Linked DNA regions of Homo sapiens. The protein of the gene in region 1 purifies or fractionates together with the protein of each later gene. This does not show direct contact. Each region holds a gene or a part of one and is shown in the gene's direction. Other genes may lie near its edges.

What was found. Proteins that work in one complex are often made in the same cells at the same time.
Region 2: the proteins of DEFB129 (region 1) and NSG1 purify together in Homo sapiens (affinity purification with mass spectrometry; one large-scale study listed by BioGRID and IntAct). This does not show direct contact.

The regions. Positions count from the first base shown.
Region 1 is NC_000020.11:225,915-230,057, forward strand, and holds DEFB129 (beta-defensin 129 precursor), read left to right. Parts: upstream 1-1,343; 5' UTR 1,344-1,374; coding exon 1,375-1,432; intron 1,433-3,363; coding exon 3,364-3,857; 3' UTR 3,858-3,972; downstream 3,973-4,143. UniProt on the Homo sapiens protein: Has antibacterial activity.
Region 2 is NC_000004.12:4,411,102-4,414,601, forward strand, and holds part of NSG1 (neuronal vesicle trafficking-associated protein 1), read left to right. Parts: intron 1-3,500.

The DNA.
Region 1 (4,143 bases):
AAATGGTTCTATTATAAAGACACATGCATGCATATGTTCACTGCAGCGCTATTCACAATAACAAAGACATAGAATCAACCCAAATGCCCATCATTTGGCCATTTGGATAAAGAATGGATAAAGAAAATGTGGTACATATATACCACGGAATACTATGCAGCCATAAAAAAGAATGAGATCGTGTCCTTTGCAGGGACATGGATGGAGCTGGAGGCCATTATCCTTAGCAAATGAAGGCAGAAACAGAAAACCAAATACTGCATGTTCTCACTTATAGGTGGGAGCAAAATGATGAGAACACATGGACACACAGAGGGGAACAACACACACTGGAGCTTACTGGAGAGTGGAAGGTGGGAGGAGGGAGAGGATGAGGAAAAATAACTAATGGACACTAGGCTTAATAGCTGGGTGATGAAATAATCTATACAACCAACCCCCATGACACACATTACCTATGTAACAAACCAGCACATCCTGCACATATACCCGCGAAGTTAAAAAAGTTTTTTTTTAGTTGCTACTTTAAAAGGATGTGGGAATCATTGTAAACTCAAAAGTTAAAGATGTGCCAAGAGCTGTCTCCCACGAACTTGTTTAACAAACGTACTGACTTTGTATGTTGATCCAATACCCATGCTGGCCACTGGACATACCAGTACAAACAAGGCAGAATCTTCACTCTCCTCTAGCTCTTCTAATTCTCATGCACTAAGTGCCAACCTTAGCATAACTGGGCTGACAATCAGTGAATCAAATATCTAACTCTTATCCTACTCCAACGTTAAGAAAGAGACATGCGACTGGGTGCGGTGGCTCATGCCTGGAACCCCAGCACTTTGGGAGGCCAAGGTGGGCGGATCACTTGAGGTCAGGAGTTTGAGACCAGCCTGGCCAACATGGTGAAACCCCGTCTCTACTGAAAATACAAAAGTTAGCTGGGCATGGTGGTGCATGCCTGTAGTCCCAGATACTCTACTTGGGAGGCTGAGGCAGGAGGATTGCCTGAACCTGGGAGGCGGAGGTTGCAGTGAGTCGAGATCACGCCACTGCACTCCAGCCTGGGCAACAGAGTGAGACTCCATCTCAAAAAAGCAAAAGAGAGACACATGCAAAGGGCTTGCTCTTTCTTTCTCATCTTACCTATCTTATGTTTTCCTCCAGGATCAAGAGCAAGGAATTTGTTGCATAGAGGTGTTCAAGAAAGGGTGTTTTCAAACAGAGTCAGAAAAAACACAACTATACTGCGAGCAGCATACAAACCTGCTTTGGCTGCACTTCACTGCTCATGGCATAAGGCCACGAAGAGGCCAATAAAGGCTGGAGCTCAGGAGCATCAACCCAGATTCAAGGCTTCCTCTCTGGCACCCAACCATGAAGCTCCTTTTTCCTATCTTTGCCAGCCTCATGCTACAGTACCAGGTGAACACAGGTAATGTGGATTCCCAAGTTTAAGATGGGTAGATGAGAGGAACCAAGGATTTGGCTGCCCATGACAATGGAAACCCAAAGAGAGGAGACTGAAAGATTAGCTGTTCAAAAAGATGGCTAAAGAGCTTACCTATTGTATCAGTCATGCACTGATACATTCTCATAGGCCCCAACTGCCAGATTGTGTCCAGTGGAAACACCCAGGAAGCTACAGAGAAAGCAGGGTATTTTTTGTCTATTCAGAAACTATCCAAAATATAATGCTGCCTTCCTGCCCTGTATATGTCTATCATGCTAAGACTAAGCCCAGGTCTACCTCCTTTTAGCTCTATTTCTATCTTAAAAGCCCTTTTTTTTTAAAAAAAGTCCTGGGGTACTTGTGCAGGATGTGCGGTTTGTTACATAGGTAAATGTGTGTCATGGTTATTTGCTGCACCTACCAACCCATCGCCCAGGTATTAAGCCCAGGATGCATTAGCTATTTTTCCTGATGCTCTCCCTCCACCCAACAGGCCCCAGTGTGTGTTGTTCCCCTTCCTGTGAAACCACCTCTTGAAGCAAAGTTTCCTATCAGTTTGTGCTTGGTGTAGAAAGGAGGAAGTTCTTCCCTCATGCTCAAAAAAAAACCCTTTCAAGATCAAGTAAACAGGCCTGTGTTCTCCATCTTGAATTCTTTCAGGTTTTCCAGAGCCTTTATCGCTTCTCTCAGACTTTGTCTTCCTGAAAACCCCCAAACTACCATAAGGGCATCTAGGAATGCATTATAGCAAAAGGCTAAGCCAGGGGATTAACCATTGTTTTTGGAAAAGAAAGGAGAAGCACTGAGATTTGTTTCAGAATACAAGAATCATCCAGCTATTTGAAAAAATTAGCAAAGGGTTTCGGGGCAGGGAAAGTGGAAGTGTCAAAGATGCTTCTAATGTTTTTATCTTCTAATGTTTTTATCTTGGGACCCTAGGAAAAGGGTAGTACCATAAGCAAGTATGGCTGTGTCATCTTGGGTAAAGTCACTTAACCACTTTGAACTTCAATTTCACATGAGTATAATGGGGTTAATCAATGCAGCTGATTCCAATATAAGAATTTTTCTGTTTCCCGTTTGATGAGAAAACAATGTGGAAATGTATGCAAATATGCTTTGAAAATTAGCAGATGCTACATAAATCTCTTGTAATTTAGGGAAAATCATTGGGTTATTAAGATGAACAAGGGAGAAAAGCTTTCTTGATTCAGAAAAAAGAAACACGAGACATTAGGATGGAAAAGTCATTCAGCAGATAAAGATAAGGTACTAAGCCGAGCAGGAAATTTAGAATTATAGATAACAATACAGAAGTTACCTTGGTGGATATGAGGTTAAGGCTAGGATAATGAATGAGACTTCTGAGAGATAGAGTGTCCAAAGAGGCTAGAAGAGATAGAACACCATGCTTCAGGAATCACAGATCTAGTGATTGTTGAGAAGAGAGAAGTCATGGGCTACTGAGTTTGGTGAAAAGATAAGACTCCTGAAAATTCTATTGATTCTCTTTTGAACTTCTTTCTTAAATTAGTTTTATGATGGACTTGGCTCTCATTGGTATTTCCCAAGATTATGGAGATGGGATAGTGATGTCTGACAAGTACCTAAGATGCTAAGTTGAAGGTCTAAAATTCCATCCTAAAAGCAAATAATTACTCTATCATCTACGTGCCCTTTGCTTCTTAAAGTTACTCAAGGAAGGCAGACTAAACAGGAAATTTACTTTGGATTCAAGAGGGGCATAGAGACGCTCTCAGCCTGCCCATTTGCCTTCATCAACATTCCTAAACACTGGGCTTAAAATGTAGTATGAGTAAACTCTCTCTTAGTCTATCCATCTCCCACTAGCAGTTTTAACATCATCTCTAGTTATTAACCTTGGCTCAATGGCTTTCTCTTTTTTTATACAGAATTTATTGGCTTGAGACGCTGTTTAATGGGTTTGGGGAGATGCAGGGATCACTGCAATGTGGATGAAAAAGAGATACAGAAATGCAAGATGAAAAAATGTTGTGTTGGACCAAAAGTGGTTAAATTGATTAAAAACTACCTGCAATATGGAACACCAAATGTACTTAATGAAGACGTCCAAGAAATGCTAAAACCTGCCAAGAATTCTAGTGCTGTGATACAAAGAAAACATATTTTATCTGTTCTCCCCCAAATCAAAAGCACTAGCTTTTTTGCTAATACCAACTTTGTCATCATTCCAAATGCCACCCCTATGAACTCTGCCACCATCAGCACTATGACCCCAGGACAGATCACATACACTGCTACTTCTACCAAGAGTAACACCAAAGAAAGCAGAGATTCTGCCACTGCCTCGCCACCACCAGCACCACCTCCACCAAACATACTGCCAACACCATCACTGGAGCTAGAGGAAGCAGAAGAGCAGTAATGTGGATCTTTCCCTTAAAACTCCAAGTTCCTCTCTATTTTTGCTATCTATAAAATGACATAGAACTGTTTCCTCTGTCATCAGTCATTCAATAAACACTGTTTGAGCACCTACAGTTTATGTAATATTATCATTCTCACAAGAGCCTCACAGAGGGGGTAGAGCTAGGGAGGGATGGAATTGTTTAAGTTTAGATGCCCAGGAGAAAGTAAGCCTCAGGAGGGTGACTACAGCATCGAGTTTGTCCCAAGCATGGCCTAGATTAGGCCTCTGTAGCAAGCATTTA
Region 2 (3,500 bases), on another chromosome or scaffold:
CACCTCGGCCTCCCAAAGTGCTGAGATTACAGGCGTGAGCCACCACACTCAGCCAATAAACTTTTAAAATGTAAGTTTTTGACTCTTTTGTAATAACACTTAGCTTAAAGCTCAAACATCTTGCACAACTGTATATTATTTTTCTACATGTGCTTTTTCTATTAAAAAATTTTTTAATTCTTTTTTTACTTCCAACACATTTTTGTTAAAGCTAAGGACACAGACACACACATTAGCTAGGCCTGCACAGGGTCAGGATCCACAGTATCACCGCCTTCTGCCTCCACACCCTGTCCCACTGGAAGGTCTTCAGGAGCAGTGACAGGCACAGGGCTGTCATCTCTTAGGATAACAATGCCAGGCCAGGTGCAGTGGCTCACGCCTGTAATCCCAGCACTTTGGGAGGCCTAGGTGGGTGGATCACCTGAGGTCAGGAGTTCAAGACCAGTCTGGCCAACATGGTGAAACACCGTCTCTACTAAAAATACAAAAATTAGCCAGGCATGGTGGCGGGTGCCTGTAATCCCAGCTACTCAGGAGGCTGAGGCAGGAGAATCGCTTGAACCCAGAAGGCGGAGGTTGCAGTGAGCTGAGATCATGCCACTGCACTCCAGCCTGGGCAACAGAGGGAGACTCCGTCTAAAAACAAAACAAAACAAAACAAAACAAAACAAAACAAAACAAAACAAAACATTGCCTTCTTCCAGAATCTCTCTTGGAGGAGCTCCCTGAAGCTCTTTTAGAGTTAACTTTTTTTTTTTAATAACTAGGCATGCACTCTAAAATACTGATTAAAAAGTATAGTACGGTAACATAAACAAGTAACATACGCGTTTATTGTCACTGTCAAGTATTATGTTCTGTATGTAATTGTATGTGCAAGACGTTTATACAGCTGACAGTGCAGGGGGTGTGTGTATACCAGCACCTCCGCAAAGTGAGGAGTGTGTTGTGTTCCGTCTACACGGTGGCTGCGAGGTCACCAGGCGACAGGAGGTTTCAGCTCCGTGACAGTCTTATGGGGCCACCATGGCATGTGGTCCATCGTTGACCCAAATGCTGTTATGCCGCGTGTGGCTGTAAAACGCACTTGCTGGTTCCCCACAGGGAGGAGGGGGTGGCTAAAACTGCCTTCCCTATCCTGCAAGCCCAAGTCCCGCTGGATACCTGGCCTGGGTGGGAGATGACCCAGGAGATGAAGCCCCAGTCCTGTGTCCGGCTGCAGATGAGACTGGCGGCCACAATGGAAGGGGCCTGGCACCTTTTGTTTAAAAGGCGCTCCAGGTGATTCCCATCCACAGCCAGCCTTGGGAATTGAGAGTCCCCTGATAAGTTGTTCTGGAGTGATGTCCTGTGGGACTTTGGCATTTTCCACTAGCATCTAATGAGGGGGTGTCCTTTCCGGAGAAGGCACCTAGGAAGGCCAGGGAGCTGCTGGTCTGTATCCAGCTGCCCTTGGCCAAAGCTGGAGAAAGGAGAGGCGTGAGCTCATGAAGTCCCCTTGACCTCCTCCCTCCATATTTGTGCGTGTGTTTGTCACACACCAACGCTAGGCAGCTTGTGTGGGGCTTTTACACCTGTTGCTCACGGAATCCATACACTCGGTAGCTGTGGGCTCCCGTTATCCATACACTCAGTAGCTGGCTCTGAACTTCCCAGAGTCAGTGTGAGATGCTCATCTCCAGGGCTTGGCACTGCTGAGATTAAAATAAAGCAGGAGAAGCCAACTGTTTCTAGCACTGAGCACGTGCACAGGGAAGCCTGGCTTGGCAGCTGTCACTGGGTAGCTTGGGTTTGGGTTTCATTTAGGTTTTGTTTTTTGCTGATATGAGGACGCAGAGAGTCCTTACGCGATTAGCAGGAAAGGCTGGAATTCACGTTGTCCAGCCCAAGTCCCTTTTTCTCCTTGCACATCATGCTGTCCTTCAGGCTCCCGACATTCAGCTCTTCCTCCCTTGGGCAGGCATGTACATGGCACCCACCCCGTGCCAGCAGCTCTTGCTATTGTTCTAGGCGCTGGAACACAGCCGAGAGCCAGTCAGGTACAGCCCCCTGCCTTCACGAGGCTCTTACATTCTCAAATGAACGGTGAGGAAGTCAGTCGTACACTGAATGTGAAGGCTATAGACAGACAGGAAAGAGGGCCCAGGGGTTGGGCATGGGCATGTGGGCGGTAGTTTCTAGAAGGATGGTCCACATTGGAGGAGCGGGTCTCCAGGAGGTGAGCCAGGGAGCTTGCGGGTCTTGGGGGAGTGTGCCCAGCCAAGGAAAGCCCCCACCCTTTCACTCATGTTTTATTCAGCAAGCCCCGTCCACGCCCTAGGCTGGGGCTGGGAGAGTTTGAGTCTGTTTTGGAGGCTGAGAGGACACCAGGGCTTTACAACAAGCAGAAGCGGAGGGTGCGGGCTTCAGGGAACGAGGGCAGTGCTGGCCCTGACCCAGTGGGAAGGGGTTTGTGATGGTAGAGGAGCACAGAGGGAGCAGCGGGCAGTGGGGACGTGCTGGTGGGGGTGTGCTGGTGGGGGGCTAGCCACAGGCACAGGGAGGCGGCAGAGGATGAACCAGCTTACGGCCAGAGCGGGTGCATCCTGAGTGCCAGGCACAGGCCCCTGGAGGAGGGGGAAGTGATAGGGTGACCTCTTGGGTCACCTGGGGAGGCTGGAGATTGGAAGGGAGAGACGGGGCAGTGAGATGACCAAGGAGACTGCTGCAGTGGCTGAGGGAAGAGAAGACTGGGGCGCTGGGGATGGAGGGGAGACTGCAGACTGGAGAACTGATTTAATCTGGGAGGCAGAGGGGTAAAAGGAAAGGGCCTGGTGCAGAGCTAGTTACTGAGGGAGGCCGATGTCATGGAGAGGGAGCACGGGCAGGCCCAGGAGCTGGCCCTGAGCCGGAGAGAGGACAGCAGAGGACAGCTTCCTGGGGGCCGGAAGTCCCCACCGAAACTGGCTACTTACAAATAACTGAGGCCAGTGGCTTCACCAGCTGCCCTGGAGCTTCCTTCCTGGCTCATCCTCTCTGAGCCTGGAGCAGGTTCCCCACAGGGAGGAGGGGGTGGCTAAAACTGCCTTCCCTATCCTGCAAGCCCAAGTCCCGCTGGATACCTGGCCTGGGTGGGAGATGACCCAGGAGATGAAGCCCCAGTCCTGTGTCCGGCTGCAGATGAGACTGGCGGCCACAATGGAAGGGGCCTGGCACCTTTTGTTTAAAAGGCGCTCCAGGTGATTCCCATCCACAGCCAGCCTTGGGAATTGAGAGTCCCCTGATAAGTTGTTCTGGAGTGATGTCCTGTGGGACTTTGGCATTTTCCACTAGCATCTAATGAGGGGGTGTCCTTTCCGGAGAAGGCACCTAGGAAGGCCAGGGAGCTGCTGGTCTGTATCCAGCTGCCCTTGGCCGAAGCTGGAGAAAGGAGAGGCATGAGCTCATGAAGTCCCCTTGACCTCTTCCCTCCATATTTGTGCGTGTGTTTGTCACACACCAACGCTAGGCAGCTTGTG